3 separate regions of the Homo sapiens genome follow, and all the other regions are linked to region 3. A link means that fine-mapping ties the variant in region 3 to the plasma level of a protein whose gene starts in the linked region. Region 3 holds a variant in brackets. A gene starts in each other region. All regions are shown on their reverse strands.

Region 1 (8,185 bases), not on the chromosome of region 3:
TAGAATAGTGCCTGGCATAGAGAGCACATGATGAAAATTTGTGTTAAATAAACTGAAGCTTTCCTGTGAAGCAGAAGAGGCTAATTTATAAGGAAGTTTCTTTACATCTGCACAATACAGCGGACCATGGAAAATTCTTGGGGCATATGGTACTCCTTCAGCTCCTTTCCTTTCCAGTCTGAAGTTTGCAGACAGGCTGTTATTCACATGCCTGCCAAAAGTTTTAAACAAAAGAGAGATTCTGTCTCCATAATAAGTCTAAAATCTGTTAAAAGGTGGAAAACAGGGAACAGCAGATAGAAGATGGCCAATAGCGCTAAAAATAAGCCATAGTCTTGAAACTCTCTAAGCTTTATTGAGGCGTATCAAGAAATTGCCCCCATTTGGGGATATACTAACACTAGTTATCCAGTTTACCCCTTTCCACCTATGTGAAGACTAACAGAAGAAATAGATAGGAAAGGCCTAAAATCAGCTTCTTAGAACTTTGTAAAACTAGTTCAGGGGACAGGACCTTCAGAATCCTGAGGACAAGGAGATAAATCTTAAAGGATTGGGAAATATGGCTTCCTTGACAAAGGCATCATTTTGGAACCAAAGTGGCTGCCAGTAAATGTCCTCAATTTTACTACCTGGCCTGTGGAATTTGGTCAGTAACCTATGTGAGCAATAACGGTTAGTTATCTAAACGGGCATACAGCTATTGGGGCAATAAACATTTTATGAGAGTTGCGTCAACTGTTATTTGTTTTAAAATGCTTTCATATCGTGCTAGCCACAATGTGTTTTATTATATATTTGAAAGTATTAGATCTTTTGTACCTGAAAAGTCATTGTCTAGTTGAAGTCTTCTTGATGTAAAGAAAAACTCTCATTTAAAAAATTACCACAAATAATTTTTTTGTATTAATTTTTAAAAATTGGCCCAACAGAGTGGCTCCTGCCCATAATACCAGCACTTTGGGAGGCTGAGGCAGGCAGATGGCTTGAGCCCAGGAGTTTGAGACCAGCTTGGGCAACATAGTAAAACACTGTCTCTACTGAAAATACAAAAATTAGCCTGGCGTGGAGGTGTGCGCCTATACTCCCAGCTACTCAGGAGGCTGAGGCGGGAGAACAGTTGAGCCCAGGGGCTCAAGACTGATGTGAGCCTTGTTTGAGCCATTGCACTCTAGCCTAGGTGACAAAGAGAGACCCTGTCTCAAAAATAATGATAATACTACTACTACTACTAATAATTGCTCGTTTGATTTTGGCAAGATAAACTTATGGTAACAAGCATACTAGATTTCTCTTTTCTTCATCCCTTTCTAACTCTGAATAATATGATTGAAATTCTTACAGAAAAAAAAACTCAAATCTTTCTCTGGTTGTAAGCTTTAAAGAAAATTATTTTTAGAAAATGCTGAAATAAATTAGAGTAGTTTGACAAACACTTTTGAACCTGTTAGACTAAACAGTATTAACCTCTGTCATCTATGTTTAAAATGATTATTATAAAGGGACAAAATTATATATTCTCCAGGAAAACAGTAATGTAAACGGTAAAAAGATCCCTGTTCAAAGTTTCCCTTCTTGTTAAAGAATAAATCATAAGTGTTAGAAATAATAGTTTATTTTAAAGACGAACTTCCTTCAAGCCCCCTCGCTTTACGCTAATAACTCTTTGTTAAGCCCTATCTTATATAGCTGTTGAACAGTCACAGGCACGTAGTACATTCCATGTCCTTGTACCTTAACCAAGATATTTGTGTTGGACGTGCTCATAGGTATGTCCTAGTTCACAGCCTGTGCCCCTTCCTTATTTGGAAATATTATTATTTTTGTACCTATTTTAAAAAGTTTTAAATTATTAGCCAATCAGGTTTTAATTTAGATTGTGAGGTCTGGCTCCAGCCAATGGAGACAGGACACAGCAATAGGGACCTCATGCGTAAGGAATAAATATTCTGGTGTCTCTTCATTCTGTGTATGCCCTTGCCATTGTTCCATCTGTGAGGGGCATCCTTTCTGCAGAAATTAAAAATTGCCTCGCTGAGAGAACTTTTTGTCTGAATGCTGACTTTTCCTTGCAGAACTGAGAAACAAACATTTTGCATTTCTAATGAGTATGAAAATTTTTTGTATAGTGTTTTATTACGGATTTATTTTACTTTAAACTACATGTGAATAGATAAAAAAATATAAATAATTAGCTTTTTTAAAGCACATATAAATATTATTAGTTTGTAAATTTTTGCAACTTTTAAAATTCATTTTGTTTATATATGCTTTTGAAATGAGCTCATGTTTATATAAATATATTTAGTTTATTTAATTTAACTCCTGTTAGTATTTCAAAATATATTATTTTGTCATTTATCCCAATTGATATAGCCATCCTTATTTCTGTGAACATTTTGGTTAGTTTTTCAACTGAATTTTAAATTCCAGATTTGCTCTTGTTCCCTGATTCTGAATGGGTATTTAATGGGAATTTCAGTAAGCTTTTAATTTCACATCACTATCTGTAACTTCACAACAACAGACAATTGACTTCAAACCAACAACTTCATATTCCATTACTTTGAGCTTACTTAGGCATCAGCTCCCTGCAGTTCCCACCTGCTTGGACTTTGAGAACATCTGTATCATGCTAGCTACTTATGCTGAAACCTTGCTGGAAACGCTGGCTTAAATTTACGTAACTACTAAACCTTGTGATGTGGTGTGGCTCTGTGTCCCCACCCAAATCTCATCTCAAATTGTAATCCTCATAATCCCCATGTGTGGATTGAGGAACCTAGTGGGAGGTGATTGGATCACGGGAGTAGTTTCCCCCATGCTGTTCTCTTGATAGTGAGTGCATTCTCACAAGATCTGATGGTTTTATAAAGGGCTCTTCCCTCTCCACTCTCTCTTGCTCACCTGCCACCATGTAAGACATGCTTTGCTTCCCCTTCGTCTCCATGATTGTAAGTTTCCTGAGGCCTCCCCATCCTCAGGAAAGTCTGTGAGTCAATTAAACTATGAGTCAATTAAACCTCTTTCCTTTTTAAGTTACCCAGTCTCTGGTATTATCTTTATAGCAGTATGAAAAGGACTAATACACCTTGCCTTCTGAAGTAGGTCTTGAGAGGTTCCTGAACCTGAAAGGGAATGGAGAAATGACTTAAAGCCACCAGCTAATTGGGCTTAATCATTTGGACTCAGTTGACTCTTCCCCTACCCCTACCCATGCCTAAACCAAAGAAAGGATCATCCCACATTTACCTAGCACAAAGAAATCTACTCTTCTGCTCTTTCTAGGACTGCTAAAGGCCATGGGAACTGGACACCTGGATGCTGCAGAGGAAGAGCAAAGCTCAACATCAACTTGGACAGTTTGCCAACCTGTTTGTGGTAAGTTGATGTCATTTGTGACCACTCCTAATGTGTGCCAGGAATAAGCTATTCCTGATGCCAGAATCTCTTACTGTCAGTGCCCTCTGTAGGCCTTCTGATCCTTACTCCTTGCTCCACCCATTGTTTATATCATGTAGTTCTCTCTCAGACCCTGATATAAAGCTCCTACTCTGTCTGACCTGACAAGCCACCTCAAGTGGACAAGGCACTTACCAACAGGTAAAGGGGCATTACAGGAGAAGAGCATGTCTAACGTGGGATTTTCTCTTTTCATTTTGAGGTAGATACAGGGTGATTTTCTGAATAAAAGATCCCAGTAGTAATGAAACTTAAGCAAGACCAAAGCTGATTTCGGGTAATTTGGCCTCTGTTATCCCCAAACCAAAAGAGAAATATCTGGGAGTGTAGCTATCTCAGTGGACCTTTCGGCTCACAGGAATTCAGAGAGGAGAGGATGTTAGAAAGATAACAGGTGCTCTGCTCTCTTCTTCAAACCCTCTTCCCTGTGTTCTCCTACAGAGATTGCTGATTTGCTCCTTAAGCAAGAGATTCACTGCCGCTAAGCATGGCTCAGACCAACTCGTTCTTCATGCTGATCTCCTCCCTGATGTTCCTGTCTCTGAGCCAAGGTGAGATTTTCCCCCACACTTCCCACAACCCCAACTCTGAATTCTTCCCTCCATCCTCATGTATAAGGTTCACTTGAAAAAAAGCAGAGTCAACATCAGGGTTTTTTTATGTTGTTCAGTGATCATTATGGCTGATTTTATCCCATTCAAAAACACCCTCACCTCATTCATGGGTTTGAGACAGAATTTAATAGGACCACTTATAGGTGACCATTGTGGTTGAGTTTATCTGATTGAATCTATATGCGATGGCAGTTTGGGGGATGTTTTTATGTAGTCATTGCTAGGATGGAGAGCTAAGGCAAACGTGTGCAGGGAAACCGAGAGAAACTTGAGAAAGGAGGAAGCCTGGGTCTTTAAAGGCAGAAGCCTCAGCCTCAGAATTAAAGGAAAACGAGGACTCATTTATTTAGCCTATTCATTGTGAGCTCTTGTCTTGAGCAGAGGAAACTAGAGAGAAAAGAGATAGGATGCAGGAGGGCAGAAGTGAGCAATCGCCCCAGTATTCACTGTATCCATATGTTCTTATAAAGGACACCAAGAAGCCCCTAATTCACCTTCCAGCCTTTTCCTTGCCCTGCGATTCTTTCTTAATTATCTCCTTTTTTTTTTCCCCAGGCCAGGAGTCCCAGACAGAGCTGCCTAATCCCCGAATCAGCTGCCCAGAAGGCACCAATGCCTATCGCTCCTACTGCTACTACTTTAATGAAGACCCTGAGACCTGGGTTGATGCAGATGTGAGTGAGGAGAGCAGCAGGGGAAGGGAGGCTTATGAAGGTAGAGGCAGCTGCTAATTTGCAGTGTGTTCTGTGGCTGCAATGAGATAAGATTGATCCCTTCCCTATTCCACCACTGGTCCCAAACTTCCCAATCTACTTTATCCCATCATTTGACACATTCCCAGCACAGAGATGCTGGTGGTCAGTGACAGCATCATCAGGGACATTTCTGTGCTGTCCTTTTTCTGTTACATCCTCTGGAAGGTCTCAGTATATCCCTCACACCTTCCTTCTCCACTGAGTGCTCCATTTTCTTCTCCAACAGCTCTATTGCCAGAACATGAATTCAGGCAACCTGGTGTCTGTGCTCACCCAGGCGGAGGGTGCCTTCGTGGCCTCACTGATTAAGGAGAGTAGCACTGATGACAGCAATGTCTGGATTGGCCTCCATGACCCAAAAAAGGTCAGTCTGCAGCCACCTCTATCTCCTTATAAACATTTTTGAGAGGTAAGAGGGACGTTTAAGGTCTGGCACCGCAATCACCAACTTTTATCTTTTTGTTTGTTTAAATAAAAGCAACCTCTTTATAGATCCTATAATGTATGAGTTGTGAAGTTCAGTGTAGGTAGTTAGAGACATGAGCTGAAGGCTGAATTTTCTGGGCTCTGGGAATTCATGCACCCACTCATTGTGTCTACTTCTAGAAATGCATCTTTATGTACAACTTTTTCCCTATTTTGCTATTGTCTGTCTTGGAAGAGGTCCCTCTGTAGACTATATAGAAAATGAGTAGTGGAGGAGAATCTACTGCTGGCATTTGTTATACATTTTATACAAGTGTATAAAACTGTACAGTATATTATTTAGTTTAACACTATAAACTAAATAATATATCAACGACTACTCTACAGCCAATGTTATGCTGGATATGAGAGTTCTGAGATTCAGGAAAAAAATCAGAAACCACTCTCTTTAATGGGCTTTTATGGGTCTCTGTATCAAATTCTGAACACTTATTATTTGCTGGAAGAGGAGGAGGAATTCGGACATTCTAGAGAAGGAGAAGCTTAGAGCAAAAGCAGAGGAAATGATATGATATTCATGGTGACAACAATGTTTATTCTTTCTGCTATAACTTGGCCTGTTTCTGAGTGTGCACACAGGCCTGGTTATTCTATTGATTTTTGAGTGACCATGGCCCCTGTTCTGGCCCTTCTCCATCTAGAACCGCCGCTGGCACTGGAGTAGTGGGTCCCTGGTCTCCTACAAGTCCTGGGACACTGGATCCCCGAGCAGTGCTAATGCTGGCTACTGTGCAAGCCTGACTTCATGCTCAGGTGAGAGGCAGACAATCTATCCACCTGTTGCCATTTCCTTCCCACTTATCTCTGGGGATGAACATGGGGACTGGGATAGAGGAAAGGTAAGCTCCTTATCTGGAAAATAAAGAAGTATTTCCTCTAGTTTTTTGTTCTGAGTCCTAGGTTGAGGAGGGGCTACACTCCTTCTGATCCTCTATGTCTGACACTTCTCATTGTACCATAGGATTCAAGAAATGGAAGGATGAATCTTGTGAGAAGAAGTTCTCCTTTGTTTGCAAGTTCAAAAACTAGAGGAAGCTGAAAAATGGATGTCTAGAACTGGTCCTGCAATTACTATGAAGTCAAAAATTAAACTAGACTATGTCTCCAACTCAGTTCAGACCATCTCCTCCCTAATGAGTTTGCATCGCTGATCTTCAGTACCTTCACCTGTCTCAGTCTCTAGAGCCCTGAAAAATAAAAACAAACTTATTTTTATCCAGTGTTCTGTCTTCTGCATTTGCTCTTTCTACAGCCCATGCTTGGGTGGTTGGGGTGGGAATGATTGTCACACTCCAGAGCTTGCCATGGCCCATCCACTTGTTAAAACCCCACTCACATTTTATGTATGTCAGGCTTATGAACATGTGGTGGCCTTGTTTATGACAAGATAAAAAGATTAAGATTTCATCCACAACACATGTTAGCATGAACCTAGTGTGAATTACACAAATAATTAAATTGTTGATCCAGTCTGACTGGAGTATTTAATATTCCAGAAGAATTCGCATAGTTGGGGTCTGAGGAGAACACATCTGTTCTTGGTTATGCAATTTGAAGTCATGACTGAAATGATAACTTAAGGAGAATTGTCAGGTCTGCGGTCCTGAGTGCATTAGTGGTACATTTTTGGAGGCCAGCCTGCAAAGTTTGTTAAATGCTACTCCTTGGATGAATGAATAAGTGAATGATCAATTATGTAAATTAAATATACAGGCATACTTAATCATCTCTTTAAATATCCTAACTCTCAATAAAGTTAAATTCTGAAATATTACTCTTAGGACTTTCACAAATTAATTGTGCAGGGACACAGTTCAGCCCATAACATCAATCATATCAATAATAGAGTTAAATGTGATTTGATAACAAAGGAAACAAATTGTCATCCTGGATTAAAGTAACAACAATGAAAACAAGATTCAACTGTATGCTATGTATGAGAGACATGAGTTAAATTAAGACACAAATAGCTTGAAAATAAAAGGAAGGAAATAGACATATCTTGCAAACAGAAACCATAAGAACACTGGTTTCTGTACTGTTACCCAGTGTAATGCCTATATGAGATTGCTGAATTTCTACCCTGTCTGAACTCTGCTTATCTTTAAGAAACAGAATGCCTGTGGTAAAAAGTTTCCTTTATAACTAGTCCAGCTGATACTGGTTAGAATCAAGATCACCATCAAAGGACCTCAGAAAGACATCTGGTTCATTATAATCTCATTTCCATGCTAAATGACACTCCTACCAGCACAATGACAGCTGACAATCACCATGACAATGGCCAGAAGAAGCAATAAAGGTACAAAAAGGAAGCACACTCTGGTTCCTAGGAAGTTCACAACCTATTTCCAGAAAAGACATGAATATTCCTCCCTTTGTTTTTAATGCCCAGTCCTTTCATTGGAGAAACCCTATATTTTAACCACTTTACCCCTCACTAGCAGAGAAGCCAATTTGTGAGTCATGTTCCTGCTTCTCAATTCCATGGCCATCAAATAAATCCTGCAGTGCTTGACACTCACTTTCTGTTTCATGTATTGGCTTTGTGACACCAAATAGGGAAAGACTCCATCTTTTGGGGGACTGGTTTTGTCTGCAATGATACTAATATCAGACATATTTGACTTTAAAGCAAAAATGTTACTTGAGAAGAAAAGGAGTATTTTATAATAATAAAGTAGTTAATTCTTCAGGAAGATGTCTCAAAATACCTGAAACAGGTGGAACCCACTGCAGTGTGACAAAGCCGCTATAACCAGACTGCCCCTCCGGATTCCTCCTCTCTGGGGAGGACATCTCTGAAAGAAAGGCAGCAGCCTCAGTCAGGGGCTTATAGATAAACTCCCATCTCCCTGGGACAGAGCA
Region 2 (8,180 bases), not on the chromosome of region 3:
GTTTTGTGTTTAATCCAAATATATAAAGATGCCACTATACTGTAAAGTCATTCAATGTTTACTTTTTAATTTCATATGCTTTGGTTGGTGTTTAAAGTGTTCCTAGGTCCAGCTCCAAATTTATTCCACTTTACTTTCTTTCACATATTTTATGCTTCTTTTAAATTGTACTGAATTATTCAGAGTTATTCTAATAGTAGTTATTATTTTTCCTTTTTTTTTTTTTTTTTTTTTTTTAGACAGAGTCTCTCTCTGTTGCTTGGGCTGGAGTGCGATGGCTTGATCTCGGCTCACTGCAAACTCTGCCTCCTGGGTTCAAGCAATTCTCCTACCTCAGCCTCCCGAGTAGCTGGCCTCCCGAGTAGCTGAGATTACAGGCGCCTGCCACCATGCCTGGCTTATTTTTTTGTATTTTTGGTAGAGACGGGGTTTCACTAAATTGGCCAGGCTAGTCTCGAACTCCTGACCTCAGGCAATTCACCTGCCTCGGCCTCCCAAATTGCTGGGATTATAGGCGTGAGCCACCGTGCCCGGCCTTTTTTTCCATGCTTTATTCACCTTGTTTCCTCCAGTTGACACTTCCTATCCAACCCTTGCCAATTCTTCCCCACCTCCATGTTTCTTATTCTCAATTAAAGTCCTATCTGGAATTCAAGACCTACCTCAAATAAGTACCTAATTCTTAAAGCTTTTTAAAAAATCTTTATATATTGTTATAATATCTTTTACATGTTTATACACAGTTTGCATTGCTTATATTCTCTTGGAATGATATCTTATTGTATATGATGTTTTGGTTATTTGGGTACTGCTTCTAGTTTCCACCAATTGGAAGAAAGGTTGTGACTTAGTCATATTTGTGCCTCATTTATGCCTCAACACAGAACATTGTGTATAATAGACATTCAATAAGCATTTGTTTAAATAATAAAATTATGCAAAATGCCAAAATTATTTTCTAGAATGTATGGCACAATTTCCTCCTACTTCTCACTGATGCGCAATATAACCACTCATGGAAATAATTTGGTTCTTTTTTTTCCTAAAACTGCAAACCCCTATGGACGTGATTATAGATGCGCTTGTTTATTCATGCAGACAGTCAAACTGTGTTTTGACTATTTTAATTGCCTTATTTCAATACAGAATAATTTTTTCTTGGCTCTTTATGTCTTGATAGCTGTTAAGTAGATTAAAAAACAAAAATGGAAAACAGGAACTTCTATAATCCTCTACCCTTAGAATGGTGGATTTCTATTAAGATATATGCATTAAAAGAACAAACTCTACCAAAATTTAACTTTTAGATGTAAATTGCAGTAAACAGAATAGCAGAAGCTTAGAGAAAATTTTTCCAAATACACTCTGTGTTTTAGAAACAAAGATTTTTAGAAAAAGCAAAATTTGAGAATTTTCTCCCCACTATTTCATTTAAATAGGTCTCTTAACAAATATAATTCACTTGTGATTTTCCTCATCATTTTGTAGCTTTGAAAGCTGTATTTGATGAGAAAAACCTGTTTCCCAAGGAAATTCTGCATCATGAACGAAAAGCCAAGCAATTATGCCAAGAAAAAAGTTGTGAAGTGAAGAAAAATAAGAAGTAATTACAACAGAAAAACCTTCACTGTTACATAAGGTACAGATATAAAATGCAGAAAAAGCATCAAGAATTCTGCCTTTTATTTTATTTTATATTTAAACTTCAGGAAGTTTTCTCTTCATGGGATAATTTAGTACTGCTTTTATCTATCATCTGTCAATTTCTCTGTATTCTTAATAAAATAAATATTGAACTAAAGTGGGAGCAACATCTTGGTATTTATTCTCAAGGATTTTTATATAAAAACTTTATGATTCCAGAACAAAGTTCTAACCAGTTGCCCTTCTGGTTGTTCCTATAGACAAACACTTTTGATCAGTTTTCATTGTAAAACCTGCATTGAAATATATGAAAAGTACTGACGGAGTAAATATCTACAAATGTGAATAAGAAAACTGTTTCCACTTTTTTACACTTTCTAGTAGTTTTTAAATGATTCTCATAATGGTGATTAGACTTTGTCAATAGCACCACTTCCTGTTAATTCTTATTGGCTTTTATTCATTCTATAAACTTATTGGAAAATTACTGCATATGATCTACTTCAATAGTTTGTTATACTGTACTTTAAAATTGAATGCCATAGCACATTGAAGATGTAATAGTCTTGAAAAAAAATCAAAGGGCCTGGGGCTATATAAAGGACCCACTCTATGTGGAAAGTCAAGTGGGAAATATTTGGTTCTTTAACTTACTGCCTCTGTTTGTTGACCCATTTTTATTTACAAATATAATCATCTTCCAGGCAATATTATTATTCTGCTTTATTTATTGTGTCCTATAGAAAGAATTGGTAAATTCATTTACATAACTATAATGACTTACTGTATATTTATATTTTAAAGAGTGCTTTCAAAACCAGCTAAAGTTTAAGAAGAATTTTTCAATAACACATGTAGTAAAGGAAAATAATTTGCAATAGGTAGGGGACCACTTGGTATAGCAACTGCAAATGTCCATTGTGTTTAAACCACACAATAATCATATGAATATATTAGCTTAGAGCTAAAATATGAGATGCGAATCTATTAGGAGAGTGCTCAATTATCAATGGCAGAGTTGAGATTGGAACCCAGGTCTGTTTTACTCCCAAACCATGGTATTTGCCATTCATCATTCTGTACACTTGCTTCTTATTAGTATAAAGCCAATGGAATGAATTCTAACACTAGACTTTCCAGCACCAGTGGAGCAAATATTTTGGTTTGGTGGAGAAGGCGGTGATGGAAGGACTTTCAGAAGACAGCTGCCTATTCTAACTACATTTAAGTGTATTCTGAGTTAGGCATTATGACTTCTATTCATATCGCCTTTCCTCCTCATGGAATGAAAATTACATGCAGGAAAGATTGTAGGAGAAAAGTATATTTGTCTCTGTGTGTGTGTGCGTGTGTGTTTGTCTGTTGGGTGGTGTGATGATGTACAAGAAGTGTCCTTGTTTTAGAAAAATATAATAATAGAATGTTTAAGTATGATAGAAATTATGTTTTTAGCTTGCTATAAAATGATTCAGAAAATACTAATTATATGTATATATAAAATGTATATATATGCACACACAGGTAACACATATACATATCTATATTTACATCTGTTTGCTTATTGGGAGGATAGATACATAGATGAAACACACACATGCGGTAGATGCTAACAATTGGGGAAAGAGGAGGAGGTGGAGATAGCAGTTCTTTGAACTATATCTGCAACTTTTATGTAAATTTGAAAGTATTTCAAGGTAAATTTTTTTAAAATATAAAAAGTTGCTTTTGAACAAAAAGATTATTTGAGATGTTCAAGCAGACACTGGGTAACTGTCTCACGGGGATATTGCAAAGACTTCTTGCACTGGGTAGGAGGTTTGACTGGGTAATCCATCATTTCAAACTCAGAGCACATGATTTATGAATCATAGGTTGGTGATAGTACAATGGAGTGAAATCTGAGCCACATGCCCAGAAATTTAATGGAATGTTAAGATGTTATAAAAGTAGAATGCGGGTACCAAATAATTTGCAAAGGCTCTTTTCCCCACTGATCCGTCCATCCCTCATGTAAGTATTGAAGGCATGTATAAGAGATTATTTTAGGTTCCGGGTATTCACATATAAATAGAATGCACCTTTTCTACCCTCAGCGTTCTGAAGTGAAGCTATATAAAATGTAGTGGTTTATTAAGCCAATACTAAATGAGCCCACTGGCATAAGTTGGAAATTCATAATCTGGCATATTTTTTCCAGTCTAATTTGGGAATTCTTTTGCTAGATATACTTTACTGTTTACCCTTGAAGATAACTTTGTTTGATGTGATAGCCTGAGATAGTCTGGTTCATACAGACAGACCTTCTCTCTATAGCCTACTACATGTGCATGGTATTATGCTGTAACTCTAATTCCATCCTTAATTAACATCAGGGCTTCTTCTGTAAAAGGAATTAAGAAGAGCTGTCTCATAAATATATTCAATGAGAAGAGAACTTTTAAAGGTATGAGACTTTCAAGGTAACTGTTTCTAATAATTTGGAGAAAAAACACAAAAAGAAGAAAAAAGACAATGTCTTTTTTTCTGTGTCTTACTCTTCTTTTGTAACTCACAGCATCTAATTTTCTAGGCAGGTAGCAGGATCTCACCTGTCAACTCTTAACAGAACTGAAGGCATTATAAACTGTTTCTGAAATTAACATTCAGATTCAATTACTTATGATCCATTTTTCTGTGGTAAAAGGAATTGGTCACATTAAAATAGGATATGTCATAATTTTCAATAGGCTACCTTGTTTGTATTACTTATATTTACACTAAATATAATTTAACATTTTCTTTTGTCAGAACATTTTCCTATTATCACTCAAAATTTAGGAACAATCTTACCAAAAAAAATTGCCTGAAATGAGTCCATGCTTAAATGGAAGAATTAACTTTTAAGTTCTTTACTGATGAGGGCATTTGCTTATACATTTTTAAAGTTTGGAATTAAGTGCACTTTTACTTGAAAAAACTATAAAAGGATAAGAAAATTGATGAGATGATAACTGTAACCCTTTGCTGTGGTTTTTATATATATTCCTAGGCTTATACTTTACAGTCGGACAGTAATGGCGATCAACCTTCTACCAAGACACGTTGGCTCTCATTAATGAATAATTCTCCCCCCACCCCGATTTTCTAGGAGCAAAATAGAATTGTAGAAAAAAGCGGTTTGGGAAAATATTTTAAAAATTTGTGGTAATATTTTATGGACAATTGTATTGTCGTCATTGTCTATTAAAAGAGGTTAAACCAGGGAGAATAAATTTATGGCTATTGCTTTTTACTCCTCAAGAGACAGGAAAATGAACATTCTGCCTGAACTGCTCTAATATAAGGTCCTTACAGAACAATTTCATTAAATGGTCTTAGTAGGACAGAGTGACGGTCTCTGCCATTGGTAGGAAAAGTAATGGACTATTTCTGGATAAATCACATTGTGATCTGAGCAGTGTACAGACATAATGATGTGGTAGCCAAGGGTACTGGTGATATATGTTTGCTGGTGTCAGTAAATGGGTAGAAAAGCATTGATTGAATGATAGTCTTGACATTCAGACTTAATATTTATGTATTGCAGTGTGAAGCAAGTAGAATGATAGTATTCTTGTATTGCACAACTCTTTTTGGAAAATTATCTCTGTGTTAAGTTAAAGCTACACTAGAGTGTGCTTATGATAGAGTAGGTAATATTAGAATAAAACTCAAGATCTAGAAAACATTTGGAGATGCCTATATGGGAAATCAAAAAATTTTAGTTAATTAGTAGATTATGGCCTATAATGATCTATTCTCAGGCCTATTTTTAAGTTATAGCCATGTTAGGACATGGAAAGATGTTAACAGGGTCCTCTGACAAGTTTTTAAAAATGAATTCCATTTAAAGCTATCTATATTCACTTTATTTCTTTTACATGAGTTTATCAGAAATAGTATTAAATTTGGGGATCAACAGATATTTAATTAAAAGTGAACTAAATTTTTTTTCTCTTCTCAAAGGCTATAGATAAATAATACAATGTGCTTAATATCTGATTGCCATTGAGGTGATTGATTTGAACTACAAAAATGAGATGAAACCCATTAAATTATGCAATTTTTTATTAATGACCTTTTTGCAAAGAAAATCATGTAGAGTTTCAAAAGCACATAAAGGTAACAGCAATTTTTATCATCCAATTACCTATGGCTAATAGTATTGTCCTGATATATTTTGGCAAATCCATTATCTTTTTTGCTGGCCTTTCTGCTCAGAATAAAGAACATATTTCTTCAATATCCACTCTTTTTCTTAAGGATTCAAATGGACCTTATATCCACAGGAAACTCCTCTGACTATTGTATAATTTGATGAATGTTGAGAACTCTGTCAATGCAGCAGTGATTTGTCTCTGTATTCTGGACTTGATTTAGCTTTATTCTTTTTCTCATAGGCATTCTGAAATATTTATGACAAAGTGCATTGGTAATCTGATGTAGGAGTCCTGTGAGAAACAAAAAGAACTAATTACTAGCAAATTTACAACCAGTAGCGCATCCTTTCAAATTCTGTGCAACTTTTAAAAGAAGCAAAATAATGGATAAAATAATAATATAAATTTAATACTTTTAAAAAATTCTATAATTGTTTTTTTCTCAATTCTTGCACATTTCATCAGTTGATCATTAACCCGATTGTGTTAGTTCTTAATACAAATGTAGTGAACACCTGCTTTTGTTCTAGAGGAATTAATCAAGCAATGGTCAAGATAAATGGAGTTGGCCTTGATCGCTCAGGTGTTTATGTACAAGAGTTTTCCAGCAAGCGTATTTTAGTTGTAACATTCCAGTGAATAATCAGAAGTCAGTTTGGGGTAAGTACCTTAGAAATAAATAGCTTTTGAATAAGTATGTATGCAATAACATTGCCTATGAATGTTTAGTAGAGTATGGAATGGCATTTCAATTTACTTTGGTGTAAAAATCATTTGAATTTATTTAATTAACATATCGCTTTTATTCTCCTTAAATGATTTCACCACAAATCAGAAGATCCAGTTCTTATAGGACTATTCATCAGGTTGTTTAGTTCAGCATTACTTTGTGCTTTCTGATAAGATATGATCCAAAACCTGATGAGGTAAGTGAGTTTTTAAAACCAATATTTGTCTGAGGTTATAATTTATTAAGTGCTTAGAAATTTTCTAGAAAAAATGGATGTGGATGCTCAAATAATATAAATTTAATTATTAAGATTATTAATAATAATGAGAAGGAAACTCTAATACTGAGATTCTACCACAAAGAAAAAAATTACATTTTTAATAATACTGTTCATTATTCCAATATAAACCAAATACATAAAGCTATATCTAATGTATTTCCAGTTGATAACTTAAAGGTACTAATAACATTTTGACTACGTATCTACAAACACATATTTTGGTCAGAAGTCTTCTGAGAAATTGAATATATTAGAAGATAATGATACACAGACATTTATTTTGCATGTAAAACTTCTCTTACTCACTGGTTTTTAACTATTGTTGCACTCTCATTTATAAGCTCATATGCTAAATTAATCCCTAATGAAACATTTGCTTGATATTAATAGCATATAGGTCTATATCTAAAGTTTACCAACACATTTTCTAACAATTGCTTTGGATTGTTTTTTGAGGCTTTTGTCTTTTGCAAATATATATCTAAACAAATACAGTTTAACAAAATACATTGAAGGATAAATAATGACTCCATAGTTTAATTTGGAACAATATTTGACTATTAGTAATCTTTATATATAAATATAGTTGTTCTTAGGGACTCCTACCATTTATGGTACCCTTAATGATCTGCAAAACACTCTAGAAATGTAAGTCTCTACTTAAGGCTGACAACAGACTATTCTAAAGGCTTTCATCTTTACCCCTAATTAAGGGTTACTTCCTAGTAACTTACTGATGGATAAGTTTTTAAGGATTACTAACATGTATTATTTATAAGGTAAAATTATTGTTACTAAAATTTATGAGGCCTTGGAGTCAACATTCTACCAAATATGTGGTAATATTGCAAAACTAATTCTGCTTGAGATATAATCAAATGGTTGAATTTCCTGCAATTTTAGTGGAGAGCACTTTAATAGGGTATTATTAGTCTTGTGAATTGTTTATGGTTTTTAATTGCTGCTACTCTTACATTTGTTAGTATTTCTGTCAATTCTTTGATATTATATTTCATTTTATTTATATTTTTTCTTTTATAATTTCAAGTTTTATTACAGATTAATGTACATGTGCAGGTTTGCTACATGGGTATATGGCCTGACACTAAGGTTTGGGGTATAAATGATCTCATCACCCAGGTAGTGAGCATAGTACTTTATTGTATCATTTATATTTGATTGCCATTTTGTTTCAAACTTTGCAGGTTTTCTGCATTGTATTTGTCTTCTTTTGGAAAAGCAGGAAGAGGGCTTTGGGTTATTTTGTCCTAAGAAATAAAGCGTGAGGAAAATTGTAAAAAGTTAGCCAGATTACTCAGTTGCTTTAGAATACATTAATTTTCTAATA
Region 3 (8,185 bases):
AGGTACCCAGGCCCCGTGCAGCAGAGGGCAGGGCCGTGGGCACGGGGGGAGACCCCTCGGCTGCTTCAGGGACAGGCGCCCAGTGGGGCCGGGCCGGCCTCGTGATTCCCATTCCGGCCCTGGGGATGGACTGCTCCTTAACGGGCACCAGGGAAGGAGTCTGTCCTCGAAGCCTGCAGGTCCTGCCTCCTCCCAGGGCCTCACCCCGGCACTCTGGCCCCCACCCCCAGGTCTTCAAGAACCCCAAGTTCAGCATTCTGACCGTGAACAATGACATCACCCTGCTGAAGCTGGCCACACCTGCCCGCTTCTCCCAGACAGTGTCCGCCGTGTGCCTGCCCAGCGCCGACGACGACTTCCCCGCGGGGACACTGTGTGCCACCACAGGCTGGGGCAAGACCAAGTACAACGGTGAGGGGCCGCGGGGCTGCCTCTGGGGTCTGGGCTGCCTGGCCGTGGAGTCCCCCCGTGACCGTTTGGCTCTAAATTCCAACACGCTCCTAACTGCCCGTTCGTTATTGAAAATCTTCTGAATTTAAAATCCCCCAAATGCAAATAAAATCCAGGTCGGATCATGAGGAGCCTGCACAGGGAGCTTCTGAGCAGCGCCCGGCCGGGTGAGCCCTGCCCTGGCTGACCTGCCTGGAGTCGCAGCGTGGGGCTCCCACCCGGGCAGGGCCGAGGCCCCCTTGTCCCACAGGCGCTTCTGAGGCTCCAGGGGCCGTACCCAACATCGTGGTGATGGTGCAGGGTAGGGCAGGCGTGTCGGCCCCGGGTCTCTCCCTCCACTCTTGGCTGAGTGAGCCCAGGGGCCCTGACCCTCCTCCTGTCCTGCAGCCAACAAGACCCCTGACAAGCTGCAGCAGGCAGCCCTGCCCCTCCTGTCCAATGCCGAATGCAAGAAGTCCTGGGGCAGGAGGATCACCGACGTGATGATCTGTGCCGGGGCCAGTGGCGTCTCCTCCTGCATGGTGAGGCTGGCCCTGCCCAGGCCCTGGCCAGGCGAGCGGGGTGCAGGGGAGGTCTGGGCTTTCCACCCCTCTCTGCTCTCATCTACTAACCCCACACCCTCCTGGGGCCCAGTGAGGGCCAGGCCTTGGGGTCACAGCCGCCCATGAGGGTTCCTCCAGGCCATGCAGCTGAGGCTGCCCCTGGGGACTTCCTTGCAGCCCTGTGAGCTGGAGGTTTGGAGAGATGGATGGTGCCCCGGCTTAGAGAGGGAAGCCACCTGCCCCAGCTCCCTCCAAGAGTGCATGGCAGAGTGGGGGCTGCCATGTGAACCCAGATCTCAGGACCCCGGCACAGCCCCTATGCCCATGCTTACCATTTCTCCGCACCCCTCCCTAGACTCCACCAGGTCAGGGTCCCCTAGGCCCTGGCACCCCTTTCAGGCCTAGAGATACTTCCTCTCCTTCCTGCAGGGTGACTCTGGAGGCCCCCTGGTCTGCCAGAAGGACGGAGCCTGGACCCTGGTGGGCATTGTGTCCTGGGGCAGCCGCACCTGCTCTACCACCACGCCCGCTGTGTACGCCCGTGTCGCCAAGCTCATACCCTGGGTGCAGAAGATCCTGGCCGCCAACTGAGCCCGCAGCTCCTGCCACCCCTGCCTTAAGATTTCCCATTAAATGCATCTGTTTAGAAGCCCTGACTGCACTGCCTGTGTCTGTGTGGCCCAGGGGAGGTGGGCTTGAAGTTGTCCTTGTCACCCACAAAGGGGCAGCACTACCGTTCCCTTTCCAGGCTGCAGTTAATGTTGGCAACCCAGCCTTCTCAGGAAGCTGAGGTCTTCATATCTCTTGCCTGCTCACGGCTCCACCCTGGGTTTAGAATTTAGGCCCTACCTGCTGAAGCTAGCTTGACCCGTGGGGCTTTCTGGAAGGCAGCAGTCCTTGGCCAGGCTCTGCAATCCATAGCCCCCTGGAGTTGTCACTGGGACCACTGCTGACCCACACACTCCAGGTGCCTTTCTCTGCCTTTAGTCCCCCATGTCCAGTGCTCAGGAATGTGCATGCAAGCATCACCCCCTCCCCCGTCAGACCCCAGCCCCTCACACCTTCTGCATCCACTGCTGGGAGCTGGCGCCACTGTCCTCTCAGCTCCCACACTCTTCCCCGCCTCCCTCTCTGCATTTTCTGTGACCCTGCAGTTAGACTTTTTTTTTTTTTTTTTTTTTTTTTTTTGAGACAGAGTCTTGTTCTGCTGCCTAGGCTGGAGTGCAGTGACATCTTGGCTCACGGCAACCTCTGCCTCCTGGGTTCAAGCCATTCTTCTGCCTCAGCCTCTCAAGTAACTGGGATTATAGGCACTCACTACCACGCCCGGCTAATTGTTGTATTTTCAGTAGAGATGGGGTTTCACTATGTTGTTCAGACTGGTCTCAAATTCCTGACCTCAGGTGATCTGCCTGCCTCGGCCTCCGAAAGTGCTGGGATCATAGGCATGAGCCACCGCGCTCGGCCTCTGCAGTTAGATCTTGAGGCTTCCTCACGCTCAGCTTCCATCACTTCGGCCAGGCCATGGAGGGGGCCGGTTCCTTTCCCAGGATGTGTCCGGATTGGCGGTCTCTCTCTCTCTGGAAACTTTTAGTCTTTCCTTTAATGCAGTGAAAATTTTGTTGGAGAAAATTCTCCTGTTGTTCCACTGTCTGAAAAGATATTTATTCATTTTGATCTTGTAAAAGTTGCCTGTCACTCTGAAAAATAATTTTTGTTGAGACGTGCATGTGGGTATGTACATGGATATTTGGACTTGGAAGGTGTTTCAGTGTCTCCTGGCTTCTGTTGATTCGTGGAGAAGTCAGTGATTTACTGTTGCTTTTTAAAAAGGTTTAATGGATTTTCTTTGGATGCTTTTAAGATTTTACCTTTGATTTTCGTTGGTTTACCAAGATGCTTAGTTTCTTAGTTTCCTTGACTCAGCCTGCATGGGGTTCTTAGACAGTCTTTTTTAGAGTCTTGCTTTCTTGCCCAGGCAGGAGTGCAGAGGTTCGCTCTCAGCTCACTGTAACATCCATCTCTCAGGTTCAAGTGAGTCTCGTGTCTCGGCCTCCCAGGTAGCTTGGAGTACAGGCCTATGCTACCATGCCCGGCTAACTTATTTTATTATTTTTTTTTTGAGATGGAGTTTTGCTCTTGTTGCCCAGGCTGGAGTGCAATGGCGCTTTCTCGGCTCACTGCAACCTCCACCTCCTGGGTTCAAGAGATTCTCCTGCTTTAGCCTCTTCAGTAGCTGGCATTGTAGGCGTGAGCCCCCACACCCAGCTATTTTTTGTATTTTTAGTAGAGAGGAGGTTTCACCATGTTGGTCAGGTTGGTCTCAAACTCCTGACCTCAGGTGATCCACCCGCCTCGGCGTCCTCAAGTGCTGGGATTAGGCGTGAGCCACCGCGCCCAGCCTCTGAGTGCTTTTTATCATGAAGGGTGTTGGATCTTGTCAAAGGCCTTTTCTGCATCAATTTAAGTGATCACGTGATTTTCCCCTTTCATTCAATTAATGCATATTACGCTGATGGATTTTCTTGTTATTTCCTATAGCGCTTGGCATGCTGGGATAACTCCCACTTCATCATGGTGTATAATCCTTTTAATATGCTGTCGGGTTCAGTTTGCTAGTACTTTATTGAAGGTTTTTGCATCTATATTCATGAGAGATACTGGTTGGTAATTTTCTTCTGATGTTTTTATCTGGCTTTTGTATCAGGGTAATGCTGGCTTCCTAATCTGTATGTATCCATTTGTGATTTTTTAACATCACAAATTTAGATACTCAGCTCAGTAATTTTCAGTGTGTTCTTTTCTCATAAAAGTATTTCAGGAGGCAAGCTTTCCTCCAAACACTGCTTTCATTGTATTTTTTTTTTTTTTTTTTTTGAGATGGAGTCTTGCTCTTATGCTCAGACTAGAATGCAGTGGCATGATTTCTGCTCACTGCAACCTCTCCTGAGTTCAAGTGATTCTCCCTCCTCAGCCTCCCAAATAGCTGGGATTACAGGTGTCCACCACCATGCCTGGCTAATTTTTGTATTTTTAGTAAGAACAGGGTTTCACCATGTTGGCCAGGCTGGTCTCAAACTCCTGACCTCAACTGATCCACCTACCTCGGCTTCCTAAAGTGCTGAGATTACAGGTGTGAGCCACCACACCTGGCCTTTTTTATTGCAATTTGATACACACTTTATAGTTCTAAGTCTTTTTCATTTCCTCCCCTGTACAGTGCCTCGGCATGACCCACTTTATCCTGAGGGCACCTGCAGGCCAGGGGCAGGCACCCATTGCCCCAAAGCCCTGGAGCTGGGTCGGAAGCAGAGCAGAACCCTGGTGCTCACTTCCTGTTTTTTCCTTGCACAGCCGAGTTCACAGCCTTCTGCCTTGGGCCACAGCTCTAGCCTCCCCACGTAACCACAGGTTCCGATCTTTGCTTCTTCTCCCAGGTCTTCCTGTCTCTTGATGTTTCCCTCTAAAGATCCATCATGGGCTGGGAATGGTGGCTTACGCCTGTAATCCTAGCACTTTTGGGGGCCGAGGAGGGCAGATCATGAGGTCAGGAAATTGAGACCATCCTGGCCAACATGGTGAAACCCCATTGCTATTAAAATACAAAAATTAGCCAGGTGTGGTAGTGGGTGTCTGTAGTCCCAGCTACTCAGGAGGCTGAGGCAGGAGAATCGCTTGAACCCAGGAGGCAGAGGTTGCAGTGAGGCGAGATCTTGCCACTGCACTCCAGCCTGGTGACAGAGTGAGACTCCATCTAAAAAAAATCTATCATGGCTG[G/T]TCCTGGGGGGCAGCCAACATTCCACACTAACCCGGCATCTTGGCAGGAATGGAATGGGCTCCCTCCTGCATTTTCTACTTCACTGGCTTTCCTAATACCTTTCTCTGCCCGTGCACTGTCAGCCGTTCTGATGATGCGTCTAATAGGTTGGAATTAAGGTTATAGATGGAATTTAATTATAAGGACATGAAGAGAAATTAACTTGGAGAATGGATGTGTGAAGAGGGGAAAAGCAAAATGAGAGAGAGCTTGGGCACAGGAGTGGGATCCAAAGTCGACTATTAAAAATAGTATCAAGCCGGCCGGGCGCAGGGGCTCACACCTGTAATCCCAGCACTTTGGGAGGCAGAGGCAGGCGGATCATCTGAGGTCAGGAGTTCGAGTCCAGCCTGGCCAACATGGTGAAACCCCCATCTCTACCAAAAATACAAAAATTAGCCAGGCGTGGTGGCACATGCCTGTAATCCCAGCTACGCAGGAGGCAGAGGCACAAGAATTGCTTGAACCCAGGAGGCAAGAGGTTGCAATGAGCCAAGATGGTGCCACTGCACTCTTGCCTGGGCAACAGAGTGAGACTGTCTCAAAAAAAAAAAAAAAAGCAGAGGCGGGTGGATTGTTTGAGGCCAGGAGTTTGAGACTAGCCTGGGCAACATAGTGAGACTCCTTTAAAAAAAAGAAAAAGTAGCTGGGTGCAGCGGGTGGCACCTGTAATGTGCTGCTCAGGAGGCTGGGGCATGAGGATCACTTGAGCCCAGGAGTTCGAGGCTGCAGTGAGCTATGATCACACCACTGCACTGCAGCATGGGTGACAGAGCAAGACCCTGTCACCCTGTCTTTCTCTGTGTGTGTGTGTGTGTATTTTTTTTTCTTTTTTTGAGATGGAGTCTTACTCTGTTGCCCAGGCTGGAGTGCAGTGGTGCAATCTCAGCTCACTGCAACCTCTTCCTCCCAGGTTCAAGCAATTCTCCTGCCTCAGCCTCCTGAGTTGCTGGGATTACAGGTGCATGCCACCATGCCCAGCTAATTTTTGTATTTTTAGTGGAGACATGTATTTCACCATGTTGGTCAAGCTGGTCTCGAACTCCTGACCTCAGGCGATCCACCCACCTCGGCCTCCCAAAGTGCTGGGATTACAGGTGTGAGCCACCGCGCTGGGTGTCTCTATATATAATTAGAGCCACCGCGCCCAGTCTCTCTCTATATAATTAAGAGCCAGGTTTCTTAAGGAAACTCCCAGCTCAGTGAGGGAGAACTGCTCTTAAACACAGAGGAAATTACATGTATTTTATTATGTCAACAACCATCTACATACAAATAAATGTGAGGCGTAAGTAATATAAAAATGGAATAGCAAGCACAAACCTGGCTAAGGGACTTTTTCACTTGCTGGTGAAATCTGCGTCTGTCCCCCGCTCCACCCACCGGCCTCCCAAGAGTCTGAAAACCACCCGGTATAAGGCTGCCACCTGGTGGCCAATATGAAAACTGCATATAGCTATGCCTTACTGTTCCTAACCCAGCGTTGTTTCAAAGAAATACAAAAGAAATACAAGGCGAGCCAAATGGATGATTTTAAATTTTCTGGTAGCCCTACTGAAAAAGTAAAAAGAGGCCGGGCACGGTGGCTCACGCCTGTAATCCCAGCACCTTTGGGAGGCTGAGGCGGGCGGATCGCTTGAGCCCAGGAGTTCGAGACCAGTCTGGGCAACATAGTGAGACCCTCTTCTCTACAAAAAAAAAATGCAAAAATTAGCTGGGTGTGGTGGTGAGACCCTGTCTCTTAAAAAAAAAAAAAAAAAAAAGAGGGACTGGCGCGGTGGCTCACGCCTGTAATCCCAGCACTTTAGGGGGCCGAGACAGGCGGATCACGAGGTCAGGAGATGAGACCATCCTGGCTAACACGATGAAACCACGATGAAACCCCGTCTCTACTAAAAATACAAAACAATTAGCCGGGTGTGGTGGCGGGCACCTGTAGTCCCAGCTACTCAGGAGGCGGAGGCAGGAGAATAGCATGAACCCGGGAGGCGGAGCTTACAGTGAGCTGAGATCTCGCCACTGCACTCCAGCCTGGGCGACAGAGCAAGACTCCGTCTCAAAAAAAAAAAAAAAAGAAAAAAGAATTTTAATAATATATTTTATTTAACCCAATATATCTACATATTTCAACATGTAATCAGTATTTTAAAATTATTAATGATATATTTTACACTCTTACACTCTTTCAAACCTAGTGTGTAATTTGCACTTCCATCACATCTCCACCTGGATGCTACATTTTCATGAGAAATACTCGATCTGCATTTACATCTTGTAAAACTTACAGTTGAAAAGGTAGACTCACACCCAAATTGTCCCAAATATGCTTAAAAGCTTCCAATTATGTGTTATATTGACAAGTACAGTTAAGCAAAAGGCTGAGTTTAATCAGGGGTCGCACTTGATTTAATCTCAGCTTAAAAACAGATTCCTCCTCGGGCGGGGGTTCCCCCACCCTTGGTCTGAGTTAGACCACGTTAAACAGTGCACGCGCCTCTCCCCGCCCATCGGGTGATCTGGCTTTCTACTAACAGAAACGTCTGGAGCAGTCGCAAGAGAATCCTGTCTCGGACCAGCCTGCATCTGTACCTAATCTAGTGGTTGCGTGATTAGCCACCCAGATTCCCTCCAGGACTGCAGGCCGACCTCCCCACGCGCTGCTGTGGACAGCAGACAGTCCGCAGCTGCCGTCCTCTTTGGGAGTTTCCTCAGCTGAAGAGCATCATCTTGACCTCGGGTCCTGCCTCCTTTCTGGGCAGCTGCATCCAGTGATTGGTCAGTAGGGTTTTTTAAAGGTCCAGTCTTTTCACCCAAACTTGGGACGATGTTGAGGCTCTATCTTCCTCTGCCCAACATTGCTCTTTCCCTACCCCTACGAGTCTTCGGTTCCAAAGGTATTGCTCCTGGGGTACCAGTAAACTTCTGTGTGGTCATCTTTATCTCAGAGTCTACTTCCTGTGGGGAGCTCCAGCTATGATCGTGTGTGCCGGGAGTGAGCTGCAAAATGCGGATGCTGAGGTGGGATTCTGGAGCTGGACTGCTGACTACCAGGCTGGCAGTGAGGACCTCTTCATGGTTGGTAGAGGAAGCGTAGATAGGTCGGGCACACGGTAGCAATGAGGTTGTGAAAGCTTCCACTGCTGATGAAATGCAATGGTATTCTGGGGAACACTATCCACTAGTGGGTGCCCTGTGTCAGGAGTTTGAGGTATGAGGGGAGAGAATACCTATAGAACGTAGGGCCAGGAGCAGCGGCTCGCGCCTGCAATCCCAGCACTTTGGGAGGCTGAGGTAAGAGAATTGCTGGAGCCTAAGAGTTCAAGACCAGCTTGGGCAACATAGCAAGACCCACGTCCCCATAAAAAATAAAAATTAG

Which allele goes with the higher level. Alleles are on the strand shown, and positions count from the first base shown. The strength of an association depends on the size of the effect and on how common the allele is.
As copies of G replace T in region 3, the plasma level of the protein whose gene starts at base 3,569 in region 1 goes up (moderate association).
For the plasma level of the protein whose gene starts at base 6,443 in region 2, G is the high allele of the variant in region 3 and T is the other (strong association).

What was found. PIP is the chance, under the fine-mapping model, that this variant and not a neighbour inherited with it causes the effect. The UK Biobank Pharma Proteomics Project read protein levels with antibody pairs (Olink). The fine-mapping took linkage between variants from a reference panel, not from the people measured, so its PIPs are less certain.
Region 1: REG1B starts here. The variant in region 3 is fine-mapped to the plasma level of the REG1B protein (UK Biobank, PIP above 0.99).
Region 2: SERPINI2 starts here. The variant in region 3 is fine-mapped to the plasma level of the SERPINI2 protein (UK Biobank, PIP above 0.99).

Annotation. Positions count from the first base shown.
Region 1 is chr2:79,083,377-79,091,561 of GRCh38, reverse strand. It overlaps REG1B (regenerating family member 1 beta), which reads left to right and starts at 3,569. Exons shown (of 6, transcript NM_006507.4): 1 at 3,569-3,603; 2 at 3,904-4,013; 3 at 4,632-4,750; 4 at 5,058-5,195; 5 at 5,959-6,070; 6 at 6,279-6,539. The coding sequence starts at 3,950. The coding sequence ends at 6,346.
Region 2 is chr3:167,472,305-167,480,484 of GRCh38, reverse strand. It overlaps SERPINI2 (serpin family I member 2), which reads left to right and starts at 6,443. Exons shown (of 9, transcript NM_006217.6): 1 at 6,443-6,482. WDR49 (WD repeat domain 49) reads left to right here. Exons shown (of 19, transcript NM_001366157.1): 19 at 1,489-1,801. The coding sequence ends at 1,607. It overlaps LOC105374197 (a long non-coding RNA gene), which reads right to left. Exons shown (of 3, transcript XR_924683.3): 3 at 6,025-6,113.
Region 3 is chr16:75,197,559-75,205,743 of GRCh38, reverse strand. CTRB2 (chymotrypsinogen B2) reads left to right here. Exons shown (of 7, transcript NM_001025200.4): 4 at 1-2; 5 at 231-411; 6 at 838-971; 7 at 1,422-1,641. The coding sequence ends at 1,583. Among named protein-coding and RNA genes, the nearest start is that of CTRB2, 5.5 kb to the left of the region's middle. RefSeq lists enhancers at 4,168-4,247, 6,099-6,393, 7,432-7,932. The variant G/T (reference allele first, on the strand shown) is at 4,770.